Homo sapiens: one gene and its partners. The protein of the gene in region 6 interacts with the protein of the main gene of each other region in a pairwise test. Each region holds a gene or a part of one and is shown on either strand. Other genes may lie near its edges. The genes, in order: CDK18, YJU2, PELI2, UBASH3B, CHCHD2, REL and CHIC2.

Region 1 (3,500 bases), on a different chromosome or scaffold from region 6:
GCAGCTGGAGGGCCACCACTGAGCTGTGTTTGGGGGCAGCCAGGAGCATGCGCTGCCAGACAGAGGACCCTTTCCAGGCTGGCTGAGGACAGAAGGATGTGATCATTAAGCAAAGCCAACATGTTACTGACCCATAATCCCTTAAACCAGGAGGATTCGGGAAGGGCCTGGTCGCCTTGGCAACTAGGTGCTGGCCAGTCGCAGGGCTGAGAGCATCCTCCAGGAGTGGGCTGTGCCTGGTGCTGGTGCATGGGTAACAGCTGGGAGCGGGTGCAGGGCGGCCCATCATAGGGCTCACCCCCTGGTGCCTTCTTGCCAGCATGGGTGGAAGCCCTTGTGAGGCCTCAAGGGCAGTGTGTGCAGAGCAGGATGAGAGGGGGGCTGCACTGAGCGTGTAGGAAACCATGAAGGGAAGTGGAGGGGAGGTGAGACAGCGCTGCTCTGGGTTTTCAGGGCAGGAGGGAGAAGGGAGGGTCTGCAGGAAGAAGCAGTTGCATGGGTCTCATTGGGTGGCCAGCAGGGCATCCTCTAATTCAGAGGGCACGAGGAGCTGGGTAGCCTGAAGAAGAAAGCTTTCATGGTTGGGGACAGGACCGTGGGGGTGGGCAGAGCAGCTTACCCCGCTCCTCCATGGTGTTCTCGGTAGGGGATACCTGCCTGCTTGGAGGGCTCTGGCATGGGAAGAGGCCTGCAGGGATCAAGCCTCATCTTCCCTAGGGCTCGACTCTATTAATGGCAAGCTTCCGTGTTTCCCCTGAGACCTTCCACTGCTCCTGACCTCCTGTATTTCAGCTGGAGAGAAGGTGCAGCTGGCCAGCTCTGATGCACTCTTCCCTTCCTCCTCTTTTTCCCCTCTTGCCTCCTGGGGCATGCCAGAGCAGAGACCTTCAGGTGTCAGTATCAGAGGTGAAATGAGGTTTGGACCCAATCATGTCCCAAGGGTGTTGGCCAAGCTGACATTCAGTTTACGGGCCTTGGTCAGTAAGATTTATTGGCTGTTGACACATTCAGGCCCTTGGACACAAGTTGGTAAATTTCTGCTGGTCCAAGGACTGCCTGGTTCTGGCACCCTCCCTGCCACCCCAGCCCTTCCCCCAGAACTCTCTAGACCTCCAGCAGCTAAAGGGCTTAGGTCTGGGGGGCCTTCAGGATCCTCTTTGCACATCATGCCTGCTATTATGACCAATACTTTGCTGGACTAGGTGGTCCATAGAGAACTGCACAGGGCGTGGCGGGGCGGGCGGTGGGCAGTGGAGGCAGTGCTGAGGGTCACTGGGAGGAAGAAGGTGACTGGGAAGAAGAGGGTGAACACCCACCCTCAGAGGGGTCAAACTTTGCAGAAGACACAACCCTGGCTCCCAGTGATGGTGGCATACAGGGCGACAGAGCTTGATGAGAGAGCTGAATTCCCAGTGGGTGGAGACCTGGACTGGTTGCCTTGTTCTTTTCAACTGCTCTTCTCACACTTCCCATCTCAGGACCCGGCTGCCCAGTCCCTCATGATCATGAACAAGATGAAGAACTTTAAGCGCCGTTTCTCCCTGTCAGTGCCCCGCACTGAGACCATTGAAGAATCCTTGGCTGAATTCACGGAGCAATTCAACCAGCTCCACAACCGGCGGAATGAGAGTGAGGGGTCTGGGCCCACCCAGCACCTCTCCCACCTACCAGACACTCCCCAGTCACCTTCCCCTCCCCGCCCACCCCCTCCCCACTGGCCTTAGGGGAGGAGCACAGCGCTGGGGGAGGGGGGCTACCCTTCTCTCCCTCAGGACAGAGAGGCAGGGAGGGGAGCTGACGCCTGTCCCTCTTAGACTTGCAGCTCGGTCCTCTTGGCAGAGACCCCCCGCAGGAGTGCAGCACCTTCTCCCCAACAGACAGCGGGGAGGAGCCGGGGCAGCTCTCCCCTGGCGTGCAGTTCCAGCGGCGGCAGAACCAGCGCCGCTTCTCCATGGAGGTAAGGGCCTCTGGAGCTCTGCCCCGGCAGGTGGCAGGATGCACGCACAAGGGTGTGCACAGGAGGGCAGCTGCCTTACAGCCAGACTTTGTGAGTTCAAATTCCACCTCTGCCATTCATTAGCTCTGTGACTTTGAGCAAGTTACTCAACCTCTGTGCACCATGGTCTCCTTGTCTTTAAAATGGTCATCATGGATTAAATGGGTTTATCTATGCCAAGTGCTTAGAACATTCCTGAATTTAGCAAGGGCTAGACAATTTGACTATTTGATCCACACACATATGCCCAAGTATATGAAAAAATATACTTACAGAATCGGTGCCTGTAAGGGCATGAGACTGATGTTGCACAGATGGTGATACTGTGGCCCAGAGAGGCAGAGAGTGACCTGGCTGTGCTAAGGTCACACAGCAGCCCCGGGTGTTCACGTGTATGTCTTGAGCACACACTGGGAGCAGCTGTGAGCCTGGGGTCACAGCCTGTGATTGGGCTCTGAATGGTTGTTCTGCAGGGAACGCTAGGTCCAGAGTGAAAGTCTGGAGCCCCACAGCCCTAGCTACCCTGAAACCAACAGTGGTGTCCCCATCTCATCCCTGTCACCACAGGACGTCAGCAAGAGGCTCTCTCTGCCCATGGATATCCGCCTGCCCCAGGAATTCCTACAGAAGCTACAGATGGAGAGCCCAGATCTGCCCAAGCCGCTCAGCCGCATGTCCCGCCGGGCCTCCCTGGTGAGTCCCAAGAGGGTCAGAGGACACAAGGTGGGGTGATATGCCCTCCCCAGCATGGGCATATCAGTCCCAGCTGAGGCCTAGATGGGATTTCGAGGAAGATTCCTGGGCCTCTGGTGCCACCTGCTGGCTTGAGTGCATTCAACTAGCTCGTCCTCCTACATCAACATCCATTTCCTAGATGGGTCTCACTTGGGCTGGAATGGGACTCTAAGCCCACAGTGGGTCCCACGGTCTCCACATGGTTAAGATCAATAGGCCAGCTGGCATGTGCCTTCCAGTCCTAACTGCCTATCAGAGCTGTTTGGGACATCTTACAAAACACAGACTCTACCTCCAGACACCTATAGAATCAGCCTCTCCGGCTAGGGGGTCCAGGAATCCGTCTTGTTAAGGGTTGGATACACCTGAGCTAGAAGTGCGCTGATGAGAGACACAGTCAGAGAGGTGGATTCTGAACTGGACACTCAAGGTACAATGGGAAAAAAGGCAGCACTCACTCTGGAGGAGCTCGTGGTCTCAGTCGGAGACACAGGTAGTCAAGATGTGCAACAATCCCAGGTGCCACAGCTCTGGGCTCTACACTCTTGGCTGTCCTGGGAGGAAGAAACTCACACTTTCACGAGCTCTGTCCTTTATCACAGGGATAAAGGGAAAAGGAGCCCCTTCCACCATGGAGTCTCATCCCTTCCCTCCCAGAGGCTGGAGTTGGGGGAGGCGTCATGTCTGTGGAGCTGCTAAGGGCTTCAAGCTCACGGCATTCTATGTCTCTCCCTCTCAGTCAGACATTGGCTTTGGGAAACTGGAAACA
Region 2 (2,754 bases), on a different chromosome or scaffold from region 6:
GTGAAACCCCATCTCTGCTAAAAATACAAAAAATTAGCCGGGCGTGGTGGCGGGCGCCTGTAGTCCCAGCTACTCAGGAGGCTGAGACAGGAGAATGGCGTGAACCCAGGAGGTGGAGCTTGCAGTGAGCCGAGATTGTGCCACTGCACTCCAGCCTGGGCGACAGAGCGAGACTCTGTCTCAAAAAAAAAAAAAAAAAAAAAAAAAGAAACGATTGTTCTTTCTTCCTTTTTTGTTTGTTTGTTTGACACAGGGTCTTACTCTGTTGCCCAGGCTGGAGTGCAGTAATGCAGTCCCAGCTCACTGCAGCCTGAACCTCCTAGGCTCAAGCAATCCTCCCACCTCAGTCTCCTGAGCAGCTGGGACCACAGGCACGCACCACCACGCCTGGCTAATTTTTCTTTTCTTTCTTTCTTTTTTTTTTTTTAGACAGTTTCACTCTTGTTGCCCAGGCTGGAGTGCAGTGGTGTGATCTTGGCTCACTGCAACCTTCGCCCCCCGGGTTCAAGCGATTCTACTGCCTCAGCCTCCCAAGTAGCTGGGATTACAGGCGCCTGCCACCATGCCCGGCTAATTTTTGTATTTTTAGTAGAGATGGCGTTTCACCATGTTGGCCAGGCTGATCTAGAACTCCTGACCTCAGGTGATTCACCTGACTCGGCCGCCCAAAGTGCTGGGATTACAGGCGTGAGCCACTGTGCCTGGCCCCTAATTTTTCAAATTCTTTTTGCAGAGATGCGGTCTTGCTGTGTTGCCCAGGCTGGTCTCACGCACCTGGCCTCAAGCAGTTCTCCCGCCAAGGCACAGGGATTACAGACATCAGCCACCATGTCTGGCCCCAAGACATTTTTCTAAAAGACATTTTCTTTGAAGCTGTGTCCTCTGATTAGAGTTCTCACACTGTGGTTCTCACATAAACCACTCCCAGAATTCATTGTCTACAACTTCCTCTCTTCTTTTCTTTTTTTTTTGAATGAATCAACAGAGTAAAGGTACTTTGAAAGCAGTCCAACCTTTTTTGATTTACTCCCTCAGTCTTGTGCCTCTACCTGATTTGATAGCAGGTGTTTTATTTGGTTTTAACGTGATTCACCTTCATCAAGACTTTTCAAACCTTCACCCTAACTTTTATAGGAAGGAATATCTCCACACTTGCGTTTTCTTGGTTTATTTTATTTTTATTTTAGAGATGAGGTCTTGCTCTGTCACCCAGGCTGGAGTGCAGTGACGCGATCACAGCTCGCTGCAGCCTCCAACTCCTGGGCTCAAATGATCCTCCCACCTCAGCCTCTCAAGTAGCTGGGACCCACAAGTGTGTAGTGTGTGCCACCACAGCCAGCTAATTTTTAATTTTCTTTTCTTTTTTTTTTTTTAGAGGCGAGTCTGTATGTTGTCTAGGCTGGTCTCAAACTCCTATCCTCAAGCAGTCCTCCCGCCTTGGCCTCCCAATCCTTAGTTTAGTTTAATGATGATGAGTACCACCTGTAGAAACAGGTTTGGGAACTAACCTAGGTAACTTTTTTTTTTTTGAGACGGTCTTGTTCTTTCGCCCAGGCTGGAGTGCAGTGGCACGGTCTCGGCTCACTGCAACCTCCGGCTCCCAGCCTGTAGCAATTGTCCTGCCTTAGCCTCCTGAGTAGCTGGGATTACAGGCGTGTGCTACCACACCTGGCTAGGTTTTGTATTTTCTTTTTATTAATAAAGAGACGGGGTTTCACCATGTTGACCAGGCTGGTCTCGAACTCTTGACCTCAAGTGGTCCACCCGCCTCGGCCTCCCAAAGTGTTGGGATTACAGGTGTGTGCCTCTGTGCCTGGCCATCTGTGCCTTTTGACTTCTTTTCCTCATTTTGACATCAGCCCAGAGCTACGACATTTTTTTTTTTTTTTTTCGAGACGGCGTCTCGCCCTGTCACCCAGGCTGGAGTGCAGTGGCACGATCTCGGCTCACTGCAACCTCTGCCTCCCAGGTTCAAGCGATTCTCCTGCCTCAGTCTCCCGAGTAGCTGGGATTACAGGCGTGTGCCACCAAGCCTGGCTAATTTCTTGTATTTATAGTAGAGACGGGCTTTCACCGTGTTAGCCAGGATGGTCTCTATCTGACCTCGTGATCCACCTGCCTTGGCCTCCCAAAGTGCCGGGATTAGAAGCATGAGCCACTGCGCCCGGCCCAGAGCCACAACTTTAAGGAGGCCTCTCCACCACCTTAGCAGTGGCCGCCCCTCACACCGTCAGCTTGGCACTCAAGGTCTCTGCCCATTCTCCATCCCACCTAGCCTGCCCTGGCACTTCCTGAATCACACTGTGGCTTCTCATCACGCCTTTACCCATGCCATTCCCCTTACCTGGGATGCCCCCTTTGCCAAGCACTCGCTTGGTGAACTCCTACTCGCCCTTCAATACCCAATGCAAGACGCCCTTCCTCTGAGAAGCTCATCCTCACAATTCAAGCTCACGCACCCTGGCTTCTCTCTCACCCAGATGGATGTTATCCTGGGTATTGGTCTCCTTGTCCCTCTCCCTCCCCACACGGTGAGCTCCGTGAGGGCAGAGCACCCATTGGGACTTCCTTAACCCAGTGGTTACCACTTCCTCTATTTAAACATAAAACAGATTGAAGAGGCTAGATGCAGTGGCTCACGCCTGTCATCCCAGCTCTTTGGGACGCTGAGACGGGAGGATCGCTTGAGCCAGGAGTTTGAGACCAGCCTGGGCAACATAGCGAGATCCCGTCTCTACAAAAATTAAAAATGTT
Region 3 (2,807 bases), on a different chromosome or scaffold from region 6:
TATCCAGTGATCAGATGAGGAAGATGAGGCTCGGGGAGGATAGGTTACTCCCCCAGTTCTGTTTTTGTGGGATAAATTGCTTCCCTGTGTTATCTTCAAATATTTTTTTGCTTGTTCTGAGAGGAAAGAATCTTGGAGTGATTTGCTTGATTTTGCTTTTAAAAGGCATGTGTCTCAAACTTGTTGTAGGTGGAAAGTGAGACCAACGTCCTGCAGGACGGCTCCCTCATTGACCTGTGTGGGGCCACTCTCCTCTGGAGAACAGCAGATGGGCTTTTTCATACTCCAACTCAGAAGCACATAGAAGCCCTCCGGCAGGAGATTAACGCCGCCCGGCCTCAGTGTCCTGTGGGGCTCAACACCCTGGCCTTCCCCAGCATCAACAGGAAAGAGGTGGTGGAGGAGAAGCAGCCCTGGGCATATCTCAGTTGTGGCCACGTGCACGGGTACCACAACTGGGGCCATCGGAGTGACACGGAGGCCAACGAGAGGGAGTGTCCCATGTGCAGGACTGTGGGCCCCTATGTGCCTCTCTGGCTTGGCTGTGAGGCAGGATTTTATGTAGACGCAGGACCGCCAACTCATGCTTTCACTCCCTGTGGACACGTGTGCTCGGAGAAGTCTGCAAAATACTGGTCTCAGATCCCGTTGCCTCATGGAACTCATGCATTTCACGCTGCTTGCCCTTTCTGTGCTACACAGCTGGTTGGGGAGCAAAACTGCATCAAATTAATTTTCCAAGGTCCAATTGACTGACGCCCTTGACAGCCATCTACGACTTTATTAACAGGTTACTGTGAAGATTTTGCCACTAACTCTAGATTTTACCTTTTTGTAATGCTGTTTATCAGAGGAGGGTGACAGGGGCTGGAAATAAAGAGAGGGGACATGGTGATGAAACATGGCAGGAGTGTAACAGATACCAGTGGTGTGTTGCATGCTCAAAACAGCAGCGTCGTCATTGAAGTCTGCTTGATTAAACCATAATATCTTTGTAATAATTGGATTTAAAATGCTATGCTTCTATTTTTAACCTTGGGTTTTTAACCAAGTTTTTTTTTTTTTGTAATCTTGGACAAGACTTTAAATCATATTTTACAGATGTAGAAGAAATTTATTCAAAAGTGTGGGCTCATGAAGTTCACTTCAGTGCAGTGTGGTGTAGGTGTTACGCGAAGGGCGCACAGTGTCTAGAAATACTTGATCGTGGCTCAAACCTGACCAGACAGCAGAGGGGCGGCTCTGTACAGTGTGACTGGTGGACAGATGGCCTTAGGCACAGGTGGTTTTGAAATCTGGGGCTTTTTCTGATTTATTTTTCTGACTTGTTGGGGGAGAGAATATTCATAACTTGTGGGCTTTTTTTTTTTTTAACTTCAGTGGAATTTACTTTAGATATTCATTCATCAAATACATGGGACTTCACAAACAATTTTCCATAACTTTTTAGCCTGTCTTTTGTTATTTCTGCCTAATATGATTTGCCCCGATACTCATCTTGCACGGCCAGAACTGTTTGGTTGATTAAAATACATCAGCTCTTAAAAACTCATTAACTGAGGGTAATTACAGTAGTAGACATGGTCTGGGTACTATACTACCATGTTTATTTGCTGACTGAATTAAGATTTAAGAATGATTAAAAATAAGCTTTTACTTTTTAAAACCACTTGAGGTTTCATAAAGCTTGGGGTTTTTTTTTTTCCTTTGTTAAGAAAGCCAACCAATCACAATGATATAGTCATTGTTGTGCACTCCCTTTTCACCATCTGTCACCTTCCCTTGCAGCTTAAGGAGCCCAGTAAGTTTTGAAAATGTTTGCGAATCAAACTAAATTTAAGTGGGATGATTAGATATACACAACACCAAGTGGTACATCTGCAGAGATAATTCAAAATTCCTGCTTTTGAGAGAGCAAATGAGTGTTGCTGAGGAATAATTAAATGAGAATTTCATAGGAGCTCCACCATTCCTGTTACTTTCATTTCATTTTGATTAATAATTCTTGGATGCTTGGCATCGATCGTATCACTGCTCCTAGAAGGTAAAGATCCTTTAGGACATGAGACTGGTAGAAGCTGGCTGAGATAAAATAAGTATTTATTTAAACTAATGTTCTCTTAATTTGACCATTGCAGATTTGGGTGACTTTTTTTTAACCTTTGTACATATACGTAATTTATATGATTCTAATGTACTATATCCATACTTGAATTGGTTTTTTCGTATTTTGCCTACTGGCAAATATTTTGCCTATTTTCAGTCGTTCTAACCTATTTGAATACGCTTTTCCTTAAAGTGATACGATAATATTACTCTTGATTGCTGCTGCTTAATTTGATGTAATATGTTTAAAGTTCAGCCTCTCAGTTTTAATATAGCTTTATTTTTCAGTGGAGATCATTGTTTAGGATGAGACATTTTTGGTTTTGGTTTTGTTTGGGTAAATTTTAAATGGTGTGAAAATCGATGACAACAGTCCTCTTACAGATAGCTTGCTGTATTCTGTATAGCTTACTCTACCTGCAGACAGAAAATGAAAGAAAAAAATGGACTTGCCTAGAATAATATATTGAATGCCTTTTGATTTAGCCAGAGTCTCTGATGATTAGCTTTCACTGATAGAGTATGTCTTTTCAGCCTGTAATTCTTTGGGCCCCAAAGAATGACAAAGGAGGCACTCGTTCTCTTTTCTTGCTGTATGCCTAGAAAGTGGTTGAAGGATTCTTGATGCCCTAAAACCATCTTGTAAGCTAAATGGTCTTGCATCCAGAAAGGCCAGATTTTACCTACCAAGAAAAAAAGAT
Region 4 (3,500 bases), on a different chromosome or scaffold from region 6:
CAGGATAGAAATGATTGAATGTGGGTAAAATGCTTAGAACAGTTCCTGGCACATAGTGAGCAATCGTGAAGTGTTAGTTACTGTATTAGCTTCCTGTGACTGCTGTAACAAATTGTCACAAACTGAGTGGCTTAGAACAGCAGAAATTTATTCTCTCACAATTGTAGAGACCAGGAGTTGAAAATCAGTATCGCTGGGCTGAAATCAAGGCATCAGCAGGGCCGTGCTCCCTCTGGAGGCTCTAGGGGAATCCACTCCCTGCCTCTCCTACCTTCTGTTGGGGGCTGGCATTCTTTGGCTTGTGGCTGCATCAATCCAATCACTGCGTTTGTGGTCAAATTGTCTTTGTTTTCTGTCTGTGTCCAATCTTCCTTGGCATGTCTCTTATAAGGATACATGTGGTTGTACTTAGGGCCCACTTGGATAATCCAGAGTAATCTCCCCATCTCAAGATCATTATCTGCAAAGTCCTTTAAAAAAAAATGTATAAGGCGGCATTCACAGCTTCTAGGGATTAGGATGTGGGTGTCTTTTGGGGGATCATTATTTAGCCTATCACAGCTATTATTATATTACTACTAGCACTGCCCCTCTTTACCAAAGAGGTAACAAGAGCAGGCCTGGAGAGAGGGAGGTTGGGTTTGCTGCTCTTTTTCTTAAATTCTCTGCCTGGAAGGGAGTGAAGGTCCTGGAGGTCACCTGATCTAGTTGGACTCCTTGCCCAGGCTTGCTTCCCTCCTCTACTTCAACCCAGAAAGGCTGATGTGGTCGGCCTTCCCCCCAGTAACTTAGACCAGTATGAAGAGGGGCCCTCGGAGGCTTCAGAGAACAGGCATTTAACTTCATTTTTGAGAGTTGAGAAGAAAGAGCAAGGGCATCGGGCTTAGCTCATCAGAAGCTTCTCTCTTGAGCTTTATGCCTGGAGGGCTGAGCATAATGAAAATCCAAAGCCCCAAAGAGCAGTGATGGTCTCCTGGGTCTAGAAGACTTGGATGTGATGCTTTAAGAAGGGGTAAGATGGTTGTCTCAAACCTGGCCCTTTTGACAGACTGACATTAGCCAGGGCTGACAGCTCTAGGCCCTTTTGACAGAGTGACAGCAGCCAGGGCTGACAGCTCTAGTTTCCCCTATGGGTGTAACTGGGTCTGGTGGTGTGCGGCACCAAGAAGGGGCACTCAGGCCAGGCTCTTGGTGGGCTGGCAGAGAGGGTTGAGGCCAGCAAGGCTGGATCCCACCCAGCCCGTGCTGGGCTGCACTGTGCTGTGGTCTTGCAAAAGTCACTTAGTCCCCTCAGGGCCATGCTGTTGCCCTCTGAGGGGAACGCAATTAATGACTGCATGCTTGTTAAGTGCTTGACAGAGCTAAGAGGACCAGAGGGCTGCAGGGCTGGCTCAAGCAGGGTGACCTCAGGGTGTGCTCTCTCTAGCTCATTACTCCCTGGAGCTGGGCTAGGTTTTTTCCATTCCACTATATGAACTTCAGTCCAACTTAGACACTGCTATAGGAGAATTTGCCTCATGGAGGACTGAGAAGTGGCGATTTCACGGTGTGTGTGTGCGTGTGCGCTCGTGTGCAAGTCCAAGTTAAGGAGGTGTTCGGGAGGCATCAGGAAGGAAACCTTTCAAAGGTCAAAATGGCCAATCGCTTCCTTTTTTCTATGCCCACTAGCACTTCCCTGTTTTAAGGGTTCTAAAAATAAGGGTCCAGCTTCCTTGAGGCTAGTGAGGTTGGTTGGAAGGAAAAGAAAGAATGTATTGGGGGCAAAGACCTGAGGAAGAGGAGACCTCACAGGCCAGGAGAGGGTCTGAGCCTAACACCGGAGAAGATGGGACAGGACTCAGATCAGAGCCATCACTTTGCACAGCCAGATCCGATGTCAGAGCACTGTCATCCCCCTGCTGACCTCTGGTTTCTGGGGAGACAGGCTCTCATCTCTTCTGTAGCTTGGGGCTGATGCTGGGCCTTGGAGCAAGTCACTGAATAATTGAATTGGAGGAATCCTTGCTGATACAACCCTGATGAGTTTTTTTATTATTTTTATTTTTTGAGGCTGCTGGTGGCTAGAACTTTGTCTACAACAAATGGCTTTTTAATGTTTCCAGTGATTAAGAGATAATAGTCTTGGGAAGGACACTGTGGCAGGGATCAAAGGTCCTAAGGTCTGGTCTAGCTTCTGAATGATATCTGCACCTTTTAGGTCTTCTATTTAACCTCTTTTCCTTAATATCTTCACCAGCTTCTGTGCGTGGCAAGACCTGTCATGTGTCACGGGCCTTTCCAAAGACAAAATGAGATAACAGACAGAAAAGAACTTGGGAAAGTTAAAGATAGGATCAGGATGCAAGATGTGATTGGGGCATTATTGTGTTGGATTGCAAGAAGGGAGAGGAGGTGAGATGGTGGTTGAGGTGTCTGGCGAGGATTTACGTGTATTATTGGATTGTCCTTTTTTTTCTACTGAGAATATTTGAACAATGCCAAATTAAAGAGCAAGGCAGTGGCAGAAGGAAAGAGCTGGAATGAGCGCTTTTGACTTGGCTTTGGACAGTAAGCTGTGTTAGCTATGCCTCACTGCCCAAAGATAAAAGCAGCTCCAAGTTGGCTGCATGAGGAGTTGAGAAGCGGCATGTGGAGCCCATGAATTAAAGTATCTGGTTTCCCTGGCTTTTTCCAGCTTACCTGTTGGTTGACATTGGATCCTCTGAGAACACTTGGCCAACCCAACATCTCTGAAATGTAGCTGACTCTGGCGTGGGGGCTGCAGCTGCTTTCCCAGCCTTGGATAGACAGAAAGAGGAAAAACTGGAACCCACCTGGAGCTGAAGGGCTCTTATAGGTGGGCAGGGCAAGGAAGTCTCTAATCTACCTGCTGTGACTGTGCACCCACATAACACGCCCTTCTATCTGTGTTATTATACACTGTAAAAATTGCTCTTATGTGTATTAGATACCCCACAGCAGTCTTGTGAGGTAAAGCACACAACATATGCTTTGTTTTAAGATGAGACTGGAGGCTTAGAGGAGTTCAGGACGTGTCTAGAGTCACACAGTTGGTATGCAGGGACTGCATTGCCATAAGAGCCTCAGGCTAAACTGCAAGTCTCCTGAACTTTCCAGGCTACACGAGGTCCTGGTTCCAAAAAAAAAAAAAACAAAAAAAAAAATACCTTGATATGCTTTTTTTCTTTTTTTTTTTTTTTTTGAGACAGAGTTTCGTTCTTGTTGCCCAAGCTGGAGTGCAATGGCGTGATCTCAGCTCACTGCAACCTCTGCCTCCTAGGTGTCAAGTGATTCTCCTGCCTTAGCCTCCCAAGTAGCTAGGACTACAGGTATGTGCCATCATGCCCAGCTAATTTTGTATTTTTAGTAGGGACAGAGTTTTATCATGTTGGTCAGGCTGGTCTCGAACTCCTGACCTCAAGTGATCATCCCGCCTTGGCCTCCCAAAGTGCTGGGATTACAGGTGGGAGCCACCCTGCCCGGCCAGCCGATGTGCTTTT
Region 5 (4,036 bases), on a different chromosome or scaffold from region 6:
TGTAATCCCAGCCCTTGCAGGCCGAGGTAGATGGATCACCTGAGGTCAAGAGCTCAAGACCAGCCTGACCAACATGGCGAAACCCTGTTTCTACTAAAATAAAAAATTAGCCAGGCGGGTTGACGTGCGCCTGTAATCCCAACTACTCGGAAGGCTGAGGCAGGAGAATCGCTTGAATCCGGGAGGCGGAGGCTGCAGTGAGCTGAGAACGCGCCACTGCACTCCAGCCTGGGCGACAGAGCCAGACTCCGTCTCAAAAAAAAAAAAAAAGCATTTCACACCAAGTATCACTAAAGCACAGATCCTTGGGGCCTTTGCAATTGCTGTTCTCTCTTCCTGTAGTGTTCTTATCTTCATAAACACATGGCTTGCTTCCCCACCTCTTCAAGGGCTCCGTTCAAATGACTCCCCCCCGCCCCGCCTAACCTCTAATTTCCAGTCTCCTTCCTCTCTTTTCATGTCACCACCACCTGATTTACGTAGGCGTTTGTGTCTCCCCTCCTTGAAACTTAACTTCGTGAAGGTAGAATCTTATCTGATTTGGTGCAGTATCTCCATAACCCAGTTAGACAGTAAATTTTTGTTGAATTTACCAGTGTATGGTTACTGTCCCAATTCTGGACACAAATTCTATAATACATATGAAAAGGAGCTGAAAATATATAGTAATACATAAATGTAAAACATTATTGCTGCCTGAATTTAACTTTTGCTGACTGGATCCACAGACAAGAAAGAGAAATACCAAATACAACTAATTCAACTCTGTTTATTTTTGACGAAACCGATTTCTTTCATTCAGTTCATACTACGCGTCCACACTGTGCCTCCAAAAATATTTGCCCTTATAACTGAATGCTCAGAAAGGCTAAGAAATCTGCCCAAGGTCCCCTGGCAATCCAGCCAGAGATGTGAGTCACTCTTAAGGTTGGATTTAATACAAATGTTTGAAGGACGGAGCGACAGGCCAGCTGCCCTAGGGAAGCAAAATGCTAAGTGCTCTGATGCGAGGACCGGAGGACAAGGTTCGCGGATGAACCACAGGAACTTCCGGGTTTTAAAGATCCTGGCGCCAAGTTCAGGGCGTTGACCGCGAAGGACGAGGCGTCCCCGTGACGTCCTGCTCTTCCAATGAACTTCAGGCCTGCGGAGACGACGGAGAACGGAAGTTCTCTGCCTGTGTGCTGGTTGGTTGCGCGTTGAGGCCAGCCCCGCCTCCCATCTTCCGGTCTCCTCAGAAGTCGCTTAGCTCTTCGGTGGTTGTCCCACGTCCGGAGGCCTAGCCGTCGCTTACCTAGGATGCCGCGTGGAAGCCGAAGCCGCACCTCCCGCATGGCCCCTCCGGCCAGGTGAGACCATCGCAGGGTTTGAGACCAAAGCGCGGCCGTCCGGACTCTACTGGGGCAATGACGCAGAGGGAGGCCGCGGGCGGGGGTGAACTAAGGTCGGCTGCGGCGTGGGCTCGCCTCTGCCAGGCGGGGGTAGATTGAACGTAAAGCCTATGTTAGGGGAGTGTGGGGAGGGAATTCACTTACGGAAAAAGCTTCCTATCCAAACAACGGGAAAGGCATAACGTTATGGCCAGGTGGTAGGAAGGCATAAATTTTGACCTAGCTTGATTTCGGGGAAAAGAGCACCCAAGGAAATAATCCGGAAATGGTCAGAGGGAGCGTGATACATATGAAGATTTTTAAATACGTGCAGGACATAATTAGTCTTTTGTTATTTGAGAAGGGGTCTCGAAATTGTTGAAAGCATCTGAACGTTGAACAGATGAGGAATAGTTGAAGTTGCTTTTGGTATAATAGTTCAGACGAGTCACTTTGGCCAGTCTTGTTTTGTAATGTGTAAAATGAAGGAATTGGACTAGATTATTTCCCCAGTTGACCATCTTTAAGTCCTAATTAGAATGTTTATTTATTTATATTTTGAGTCAGAGTCTAACTCAGGCTGTAGTGCAGTGACGTAATTATGGCTAACTGCAGCCTTGACTTCCTGGGCTCAAGCTATTCTACCACGTCAGCCTCCAGAGTAACTGGGACTACAGGCATGCGCCACCTGTGCACCACACTTGGCGACTTTATTCTATTTTATATTTTAGCAGAGACAGGGTCTCATTATGTGGCCCTGGCTGGTCTCAAAGTCCTGGCCTCAAATGATCCTTTCGCCTCCACTTCCCTAATCACTGGGATTACAGGCAAGAGCCACCACTCCGCAGCCTATGTTAATTATTTGATCCGTCAATAAAATGTAAACTCCATGAATGCAGAGATTTTTGTCTCTTGTTCACAGTTACATTACCAGCGCCTTGTAGTTACCTAATACTTGAATGAATGAATCCTGTAAGAATCTTTCTAACTTTTAGTAGTCTGTATTTCTTATGACATGTTGGATATGTCTTTAAAGATACTGTGGGCTATCCGAATACATGGAAATTGTTGCAAAGAAGCAGAAAAAACTAGTATGTCCTAGGCTATTACTATTATAAGAAAAGATTAAAGTGGCCGGGCGTGGTGGCTCATGCCTGTAATCCCAACACTTTGGGAGGTCGAGGCGGGTGGATCACTTGAGGTCAGGAGTTCGAGACGAGCCTGGCCAACATGGTGAAACTCCGTCTCTACTAGAAATACAAAAATTAGCTAGGTGTGGTGGTGCGCGCCTGTAATCCCAGCTACTTGGGAAGCGGAGGCAGAAGAATCGGTTGAACCCAGGAGGCAGAGGTTGCAGTGAGATTGGATCGTGACACTGCACTCCAGTCTGGGCATCAGAGTGAGGCCCTGTCTCAAAAAAAAAAAAAAAATTAGGCCGTGCGTGGTGGTTCACACCTGTAATCCCAGCACTTTGGGAGTCCGAGGCGGGTGGATCACCTGAGGTCAGGAGCTGGAGACCAGCCATGGTCACCATAGTGAAACCTCGTCTCAACTAAAAATACAAAAAATTAGCCGGAGGTGGTCGCGGGTGCCTGTAATCCCAGCTACTCGGAAGGCTGAGGCAAGAGAATCGCTTGAGTCTGGGAGGTGGAGGTTGCAGTGAGCTGAGATTGCACCATTGCACTCCAGCCTGGGCAACAAGAGCGAAGCTCCATCTCAAAAAAAAAAAAATTGAAGAGAGAAAATGATGTAAATAATTTGAAATGAAAATCTTGAGGTCCATTTTAATATGTAAGTTATTTTAAGTTGACAATTTCCAAAACTGGTTGGAATTGGGAACTTGATGTTTTTTTCTTTTCTTTCACAGCCGGGCCCCTCAGATGAGAGCTGCACCCAGGCCAGCACCAGTCGCTCAGCCACCAGCAGCGGCACCCCCATCTGCAGTTGGCTCTTCTGCTGCTGCGCCCCGGCAGCCAGGTCTGATGGCCCAGATGGCAACCACTGCAGCTGGCGTGGCTGTGGGCTCTGCTGTGGGGCACACATTGGGTCACGCCATTACTGGGGGCTTCAGTGGAGGAAGTAATGCTGAGCCTGCGAGGCCTGACATCACTTACCAGGTGGGAATTTAGGCAGCATTTCCCTTCCATGGGTGGATTTTATGAGAAAAGCCAGACGTTTGTAAGTTCCTTAAGTGTAGGAATTGTCTTTGATTTTAGAACCCACTGTGCTGTTAATAGACAATGGGTTTTAAAGCCACATTTGGCCGTTGAGTTACTGCCTTAGGCCAGCACCAACAAGTACTGTACAAATTGTGTTTCTTCCCAAGGAGGAGACTTACAACAGTCCACTTGACTCACTGTAAAACAACCACTTTTCCCTTTGAATATTTCATCCCAGTGACACTTCCTACTAATCTTGTCTTGATCTTAGTTAACAAATCAAAAATCTCGCATAGCTGTGTGTTCTTTTACGTGATGTTTGCCATTACCCATCTTTCTGATGTGTGTGGGCTTTCTAGTCTAATGAGCATAGGTGTGTATACTCTTGTATTTCCGGTGTGCTTGAAACTGCTCCATCCAGTTTTCTATAATAGTACCATTTTTCCTCCCTGAAGCTTCAGTAAACCATTTAGTCTTGATAACAAGATAATAATTCCACTTTATTTG
Region 6 (3,500 bases):
CGCCACCACACCCGACTCATTTTGTATTTTTAGTAGAGATGGGGTTTCACCATGTTGGCCAGGCTGGTCTCAAACTCCTGACCTCAGGTGATTCACCCACCTCAGCCTCCCAAAGTGCTGGGATTGCAGGTATGAGCCACTGCGCCTGGCCAATTTTTCTGTTTTTTTATGGAGACAGGGTTTTGTCATGTTGCTTAGGTTGGCCTCAAACTCCTGCGCTCAAGTGATCCACCTGCCTCAGCCTCCCAAAGTGCTGAGATTACTTTAAACAATTTTTTACTAAGAGAAAAATATCCTTTTCTACTGATACTACTGATTTGGGACATATTCTATAATACTTATTAAATCCAACTTACATACATATTTATTGAAAACATTTTCTATATGTGAATAAAATATTTGTTTATTAAAGGAGAGGATACAATCCTATAATTTTTTATCTGCTTTCCTGGTTTCTTTCTAATCAGATACTTACGGCAATAAAGCAAAGAAACAAAAGACAACTCTGCTTTTCCAGAAACTGTGCCAGGATCACGGTAAGAATAGTTTGGATCGATTCATATTTAAATAGGTTTTGTTTTATTTACTTTATTCAGTTTTTCAAATTTTATTATTTTTGTTTTGTTTTGTTGTTTGTTTGTTTTTTGAGATAGCATCTCTCTCTGTCACCCAGGCTGGAGTGCAGTAGGGCAATCTCAACTCACTGCAACCTCTGCCCCCCAGGTTCAACAATTCTCCTGCCTCAGCCTCCCGGGTAGCTGAGATTACAGGCATGTGCCACCACACCCGGCTAATTTTTGTATTTTTAGTAGAAACAGGGTTTCGCCATGTTGACCAGGATGGTCTTGAACTCCTGACATCAGGTGATCCACCCACCTTGGCCTCCCAAAGTGCTGGGATTACAGGTGGGAGCCACCACGCCCGGCCAGTTTTTCAGATTTTAACTGATAATGTTATTTTTCAAATGACATTTAATAATGGAAAAACTTTATCCTAACAGTTAATTTTCCTGAGAGACCAAGACCTGGTCTCCTCGGTTCAATTGGAGAAGGAAGATACTTCAAAAAAGGTATTTTATTTCCTATAGCATATTTCTTGTGATCAGAAAGACCAGTACTTTGCACAATATATTGGAATTCTATTTTTAGGAATGAATAACTGCTTCTTTGAAAATTTTCTCTCCAGATTTTTCATGCTTTCAGTATAGAATGAATTAAGCATGGCTTCTGAAGGTTGTGTTAGAAACTGATTATGTTTTTGGGATTTATTGTTCAAGAAATTACATGTTGTTCATATGGTAGCAATTTTATTAATTACATTGCGTTATGAAAAAATGTTACTGATTTGGTTAGTTACCTGTTTTTATAAATAACATTTTACTGGAACACGGCCATGAATATTTGATTAAATATTATCTCTAAACTGCTTTTTTTTTTTAACACTATGGCAACAGGGTTGAATAGTTCCAACAGAGGCTGTATATAGCTCACAAAGCCTAAAATATTTACAATCTGACTTTTTACAGAAAAAAAAATTGCCAATCCCTAGTTTAGGTAATTCAACCGAGGGCTAATTAGAAGAAGTCTTTTTTCCCCCACGTACATTCTTAAATCATTGCTTTTTCCTGGTTTAGTTTGTAAAGCATTTGTATAATATGTAAATAGATACAGAATTAATTTTTTCTGTAATTTTTTTCTGACTGTGAATTTTATAGTCTCTTAGGGTTCTGTTGTAATATATCTTAAAAGTTATGTGTATTTTCTTATCCCTAATGAGTGTTGTCTCCATCCTTCCATTTTCTCCTAAAAGTGAAGAGTAAGAGATGATTTTGGCTATTTGGAATCCCATTAATTGTAATTCTAATATTTATCTTTTAGTTTTCAAAAATACCTTTATAGAGCCTCAGAAACTAGATTTTCATATTTAATTGAAGTGAAATTACATATGCCAAAGTAACTTGCCAAAATCATTTTACCTGTATTTGTAAAATGGTATATACGTTACAGAATTTCATTTTGGATTCGTGTAATAATTTTAGTGCTTTTTACATTTTTTTATTTGAAATGTTACATTGGTTTCCTTGACATTTTTCTTTATATATATTTGTGTGCTTATGCAATTTTAATTTAGAAATGCTTTTTATAATTTTGTTCATTTTAATTTCGTAAAATAAATTTTTCCTCCCACAGAACCAAACTTGTTTTCTCATGATGCAGTTGTGAGAGAAATGCCTACAGGGGTTTCAAGTCAAGCAGAATCCTACTATCCCTCACCTGGGCCCATCTCAAGTGGATTGTCACATCATGCCTCAATGGCACCTCTGCCTTCTTCAAGCTGGTCATCAGTGGCCCACCCCACCCCACGCTCAGGCAATACAAACCCACTGAGTAGTTTTTCAACAAGGACACTTCCTTCTAATTCGCAAGGTATCCCACCATTCCTGAGAATACCTGTTGGGAATGATTTAAATGCTTCTAATGCTTGCATTTACAACAATGCCGATGACATAGTCGGAATGGAAGCGTCATCCATGCCATCAGCAGATTTATATGGTATTTCTGATCCCAACATGCTGTCTAATTGTTCTGTGAATATGATGACAACCAGCAGTGACAGCATGGGAGAGACTGATAATCCAAGACTTCTGAGCATGAATCTTGAAAACCCCTCATGTAATTCAGTGTTAGACCCAAGAGACTTGAGACAGCTCCATCAGATGTCCTCTTCCAGTATGTCAGCAGGCGCCAATTCCAATACTACTGTTTTTGTTTCACAATCAGATGCATTTGAGGGATCTGACTTCAGTTGTGCAGATAACAGCATGATAAATGAGTCGGGACCATCAAACAGTACTAATCCAAACAGTCATGGTTTTGTTCAAGATAGTCAGTATTCAGGTATTGGCAGTATGCAAAATGAGCAATTGAGTGACTCCTTTCCATATGAATTTTTTCAAGTATAACTTGCAAGATTTAAATCCTTTTAAATCTTGATACCACCTATATAGATGCAGCATTTTGTATTTGTCTAACTGGGGATATAATACTATATTTATACTGTATATATAATACTGACTGAGAATATAATACTGTATTTGAGAATATAAAAAACTTTTTTCAGGGAAGAAGCATACAACTTTGGACATAGCGAATACAAAATTGGAAGCTGTCATAAAAAGACAACTCAGAGGCCAGGCGCAGGGGCTCACACCTGTAATCCTAGCACTTTGGGAGGCCAAGGCGGGTGGATCACTTGAGACCAGGAATTCGAGACCAGCCTGGCCAACATGGTGAAACCCCGTCTCTACTAAAAATACAAAAATTAGCTGAGCATGGTGGTACGTGCCTGTACTGTCAGCTACTTGGGAGGCTGAGGCACAATAATTGTTTGAACCCAGGAAGCAGAGGTTGCAGTGAGCTGAGATCACACCACCGCACTCCAGCCTGGGTGACAGAGTGAGACTCTGTCTCAAAAAAAAAAAAACAAAAAAAACACACTTT
Region 7 (3,500 bases), on a different chromosome or scaffold from region 6:
TCTGTTACTCCGCATGCCTAACTAGGAACTCCCTATACTTTGGCTAATTAGATCACAAGTGGGCATCTGCTTTAAGAACAGCTAATCCCTGGGCTGGGTAGCAGCACATGGAATGGCAAGGCCAAACAGTCCTGCCTAACTTAGATAACATTAACTAACTCAATCAGCTCTCTCTTGAGGTATCTGAACATAAGACAAATAGATGGTAACATGCAGAGCTGACAGAGAGAGGGCTTAAATTGAAGTCAAGATGTAGTAAAGCCATCGATAATTAGAAATCAAAATAAACTGAAGCCAATAGTAAGCAGAAACTGAGATCACCAGACAAGTAATGATGGGCCAGATCAGGGAGGGTCTGGTAGAACATTAAAAGGACTCTGAAGGAGATGGGGAACCTTTGAGGGGCCTGATACAGAGAAAAGACTTGAACTGACTTATGTTTTAAAAGGATCACTATAGCAGATGTACCAAAATGGTTGTATAAGAGGAGAGGCAAAGGTGGAAAGGTGGAGACAGGGGGAAGAAAAAAATATATATATATTTTTTGTAATTTAGATGGATTCTTGCTATGTTGCCCAGTGTAGTCTCAAACTCCTGGGCTCAAGTGATCTTTCTGCCTCAGCCTCCCGTGTAGCTGGGATTATAGGTACATGCCACCATAACTGACTTAAGAAATACATTAAGCGTAAGGCAGAAGGGAGACTGGCAATTCACTCCAGTCGTGTAGGTGGCAAAATAGGGCCAAATTTTGAAGACAGAGCCAAGATGTCAAGACAGAATGGATGTAGTGAAAGAGAAAGAGGAAAATCAAGAATACATCAAAAAGTTTTTGATCTAAACAAACAGGGTCCTCGATCTGCCATCAACTGAGAATGGAAGGCTGCCGTTGAAGCTGATTTGGGGTGTAGATTATGAATTCCATTTTGGATATTCTGGATTCTGAGACATTCCACCTGTACAAATCTATAGATACAGAGAATTTTTATGTTCCTACAGATATGACAAGACCTATGAGCATATGAACTAGAAATTTCAAACTGAACATATTGGTTATGCAGATGGCACATGAAGAGAGTGCTTATTTCCTAATGTTGAACTTTGAGCTCAATGAACTCAAATTTTTAGCTAGTTTTGGAGATAAAGTCATAACTATGGAAAAAAATTAACAGGCTTTGATGCATATAAATCATGCTTTAAGTTTATCTGGTTGATTCAACATACGTCTGAATATCAATGTAGCTCAAGGAGGATGGGATCTAATTGAAAGTATACTCTATTTATACAAAAGATACAGAGACCCTGGAGTTGGAGACGTATATTTGGGTTTCAGAATAATTCTAAAAATCTTAACTCTGTAACCACATTCTGAACAATATTTGAGTTCATCTGGTTTTATGAAAGTTTAATCTCATTCAGGAAACTAGTGAAATCAAAGACTTAATTCTCCAAAGCATGTGTTAAATTTACTCTATCATAAACCTCACCATTATACATAGTCTTATAATAATCTAGCATTAGCATTTTATCAATTTTTAATTATTAAGGTTATAATTTCCATTATTAACAGATTAAATATGTTGTTAAGCAGTGAAAGCTATATAAGTGTATACTGATGAAAATGCACAGTATAACTAACTTCTGGCGATATAGGGATGCAGCTGATCTAACTTAACAACTTTTAAATTTTCTGAACTACAGAAAAAAGATTTTTGTATATCTGATTTATACATATTTTAGAATATTCTTCATACTTCTATAAATCTTAAGAGCAAAATAATGATGCTAAATTATGTTCATTTAAGCAAAATATATGGTTGAATTGATTTACAATATAGACTAACAAAAATACTCATTTCAAGTAACATTTATAATTGAGCAGTTTAGAAAAGACCAAGAAAGGAGACTGGGTACATAGGAACTCCACCACTGAACTAACCAAGGCCCACATTATGACTACAATGCAAGATCAAAGAGAATAAAACAAGAAGTTCTTGCAGGAAGCTCACTATATATAGTACATTCACTTTTTTTATCAATCAAAATAACAAAGTTAGGTTACCTTCAAGTCCAACCAACTCTATCCTAAGTAGATAGTGGGAGAGAAAAAAAGCTTAAGAACAAAAAAATTATTCTTCAGGGACACTGTGAGAACATTTCAGCTCCTACGGATGCAACTGAGTTTTAAATGTAAGATATAAAAAACACAATTTTTTTCCTCAAATCTAATGAATCATGTACTGAGGGCTGTCACATACTACACACCTTACAGCTAAAGGATATCACATTTACGAGGGTTCCCACTTCAAAATCTATGATCTTGTGGGAAACACTCTCTACTTCTGGCATGTGCTATTCTCTTGGCATACTAGCTGCCCCAGCAGCAGAACAGAAAGTGCAGGTATGCCATCAAAATCACTCCCAGTGAACAGTAAGGGTAGCCAGTTATTTAACCTCAGCCTACACAAAGCTAAAATTAAAAAATAAACAGACCAAAACAAACATAAGAACTGAGGAATTAGACAGCAAAAGTGGCCACTGCTATGTATTTCCATACCTCATAGGAAAAGCTGTGAAATTTGATGGTTTACACACAGAACTGTAATAACTCCTTTAATCTAGAGATCAACACCCTAGCTGGGGCCACTATCATGTCTTATGGAAGCTGCTTCTATAACCTTCTAAATTTCATTCTAATTCCTTTACAATCCTTTCTGGCCCCTACTGAACCCTCCAACCTCATTTCAAGACATTATCCCCTTTGTTCACTATATTCTAGCCATAATATAGAGGTATCCTTTCAGTTCCTCAGGCAAGTCAAGCTTGTTTTGGCTTGGAGTCTTGGCACCTGCTGTTCTCCAGATCCAGGGGCTCCTGACAGGACTCTCATCCTTCCTAAATGTTAGCTTCCTCAGAGAGGTTCTTCCTAATCACATTATTTTCAATCACAGGATCTCATCCATTTCCTTCAGTGCAACTTTATCAGATAAAATTTGTCTATTAGCTGTAAACTCCATGAGGGCAGAAACTATGTGTGTTTCATTTTGGGTTTCATTATATACCCAGAGCTTTGTGCAATACCTGGCAGAAAAATGGGCATTTAACAAATACTCATTAAATTACTTATCAGGAAACCTCAACAAGACAGCTGATAATCAAAGATTAAGCAAAAAATACTCTGAGAAAACAAAATAAATATTGTAAAACCCAAGCATCAAAACCCAAGCATCTACATTCAACAATCAGGATGAACTTCTCTTACTTTATATGCAGTTCTAATAAGGCTGGTTGGTTGTTTTGCTTCCAAGAACAGCTGACCAATTACAAAGACAGAAGAAAGCAAACCAAAAAGAACAGCCCACATATGAAATTTAAATGAAAGTGCCATTTAGAGAAGGTTCTCAAACTCCAACATACCTCAGGGCCACTAAGGCATCACTGTGTATCAATCTGATAGCCGCTTTTGATTAAATGATTCCTCTAGTCAATTAGATAATTCTGAG

Evidence for each region.
Region 1: the proteins of REL (region 6) and CDK18 interact in binary tests that used the Homo sapiens proteins (3 or more experiments, as listed by UniProt).
Region 2: the proteins of REL (region 6) and YJU2 interact in binary tests that used the Homo sapiens proteins (3 or more experiments, as listed by UniProt).
Region 3: the proteins of REL (region 6) and PELI2 interact in binary tests that used the Homo sapiens proteins (3 or more experiments, as listed by UniProt).
Region 4: the proteins of REL (region 6) and UBASH3B interact in binary tests that used the Homo sapiens proteins (3 or more experiments, as listed by UniProt).
Region 5: the proteins of REL (region 6) and CHCHD2 interact in binary tests that used the Homo sapiens proteins (3 or more experiments, as listed by UniProt).
Region 7: the proteins of REL (region 6) and CHIC2 interact in binary tests that used the Homo sapiens proteins (3 or more experiments, as listed by UniProt).

Annotation. Positions count from the first base shown.
Region 1 is NC_000001.11:205,521,669-205,525,168, forward strand, and holds part of CDK18 (cyclin-dependent kinase 18), read left to right. Parts: intron 1-1,478; 5' UTR 1,479-1,499; coding exon 1,500-1,629; intron 1,630-1,814; coding exon 1,815-1,957; coding exon of another isoform or gene 1,958-2,047; intron 2,048-2,563; coding exon 2,564-2,689; intron 2,690-3,470; coding exon 3,471-3,500. UniProt on the Homo sapiens protein: May play a role in signal transduction cascades in terminally differentiated cells.
Region 2 is NC_000019.10:4,264,080-4,266,833, forward strand, and holds part of YJU2 (splicing factor YJU2), read left to right. Parts: intron 1-2,754.
Region 3 is NC_000014.9:56,296,411-56,299,217, forward strand, and holds part of PELI2 (E3 ubiquitin-protein ligase pellino homolog 2), read left to right. Parts: intron 1-189; coding exon 190-756; 3' UTR 757-2,807. UniProt on the Homo sapiens protein: E3 ubiquitin ligase catalyzing the covalent attachment of ubiquitin moieties onto substrate proteins. Involved in the TLR and IL-1 signaling pathways via interaction with the complex containing IRAK kinases and TRAF6.
Region 4 is NC_000011.10:122,658,722-122,662,221, forward strand, and holds part of UBASH3B (ubiquitin-associated and SH3 domain-containing protein B), read left to right. Parts: intron 1-3,500. UniProt on the Homo sapiens protein: Interferes with CBL-mediated down-regulation and degradation of receptor-type tyrosine kinases. Promotes accumulation of activated target receptors, such as T-cell receptors and EGFR, on the cell surface.
Region 5 is NC_000007.14:56,103,677-56,107,712, reverse strand, and holds the start of CHCHD2 (coiled-coil-helix-coiled-coil-helix domain-containing protein 2 isoform 2 precursor), read left to right. Parts: upstream 1-1,236; 5' UTR 1,237-1,299; coding exon 1,300-1,349; intron 1,350-3,237; coding exon 3,238-3,487; intron 3,488-4,036. UniProt on the Homo sapiens protein: Transcription factor. Binds to the oxygen responsive element of COX4I2 and activates its transcription under hypoxia conditions (4% oxygen), as well as normoxia conditions (20% oxygen).
Region 6 is NC_000002.12:60,919,574-60,923,073, forward strand, and holds part of REL (proto-oncogene c-Rel), read left to right. Parts: intron 1-467; coding exon 468-536; intron 537-809; coding exon of another isoform or gene 810-905; intron 906-1,000; coding exon 1,001-1,069; intron 1,070-2,189; coding exon 2,190-2,962; 3' UTR 2,963-3,500. UniProt on the Homo sapiens protein: Proto-oncogene that may play a role in differentiation and lymphopoiesis.
Region 7 is NC_000004.12:54,054,606-54,058,105, forward strand, and holds part of CHIC2 (cysteine-rich hydrophobic domain-containing protein 2), read right to left. Parts: intron 1-3,500.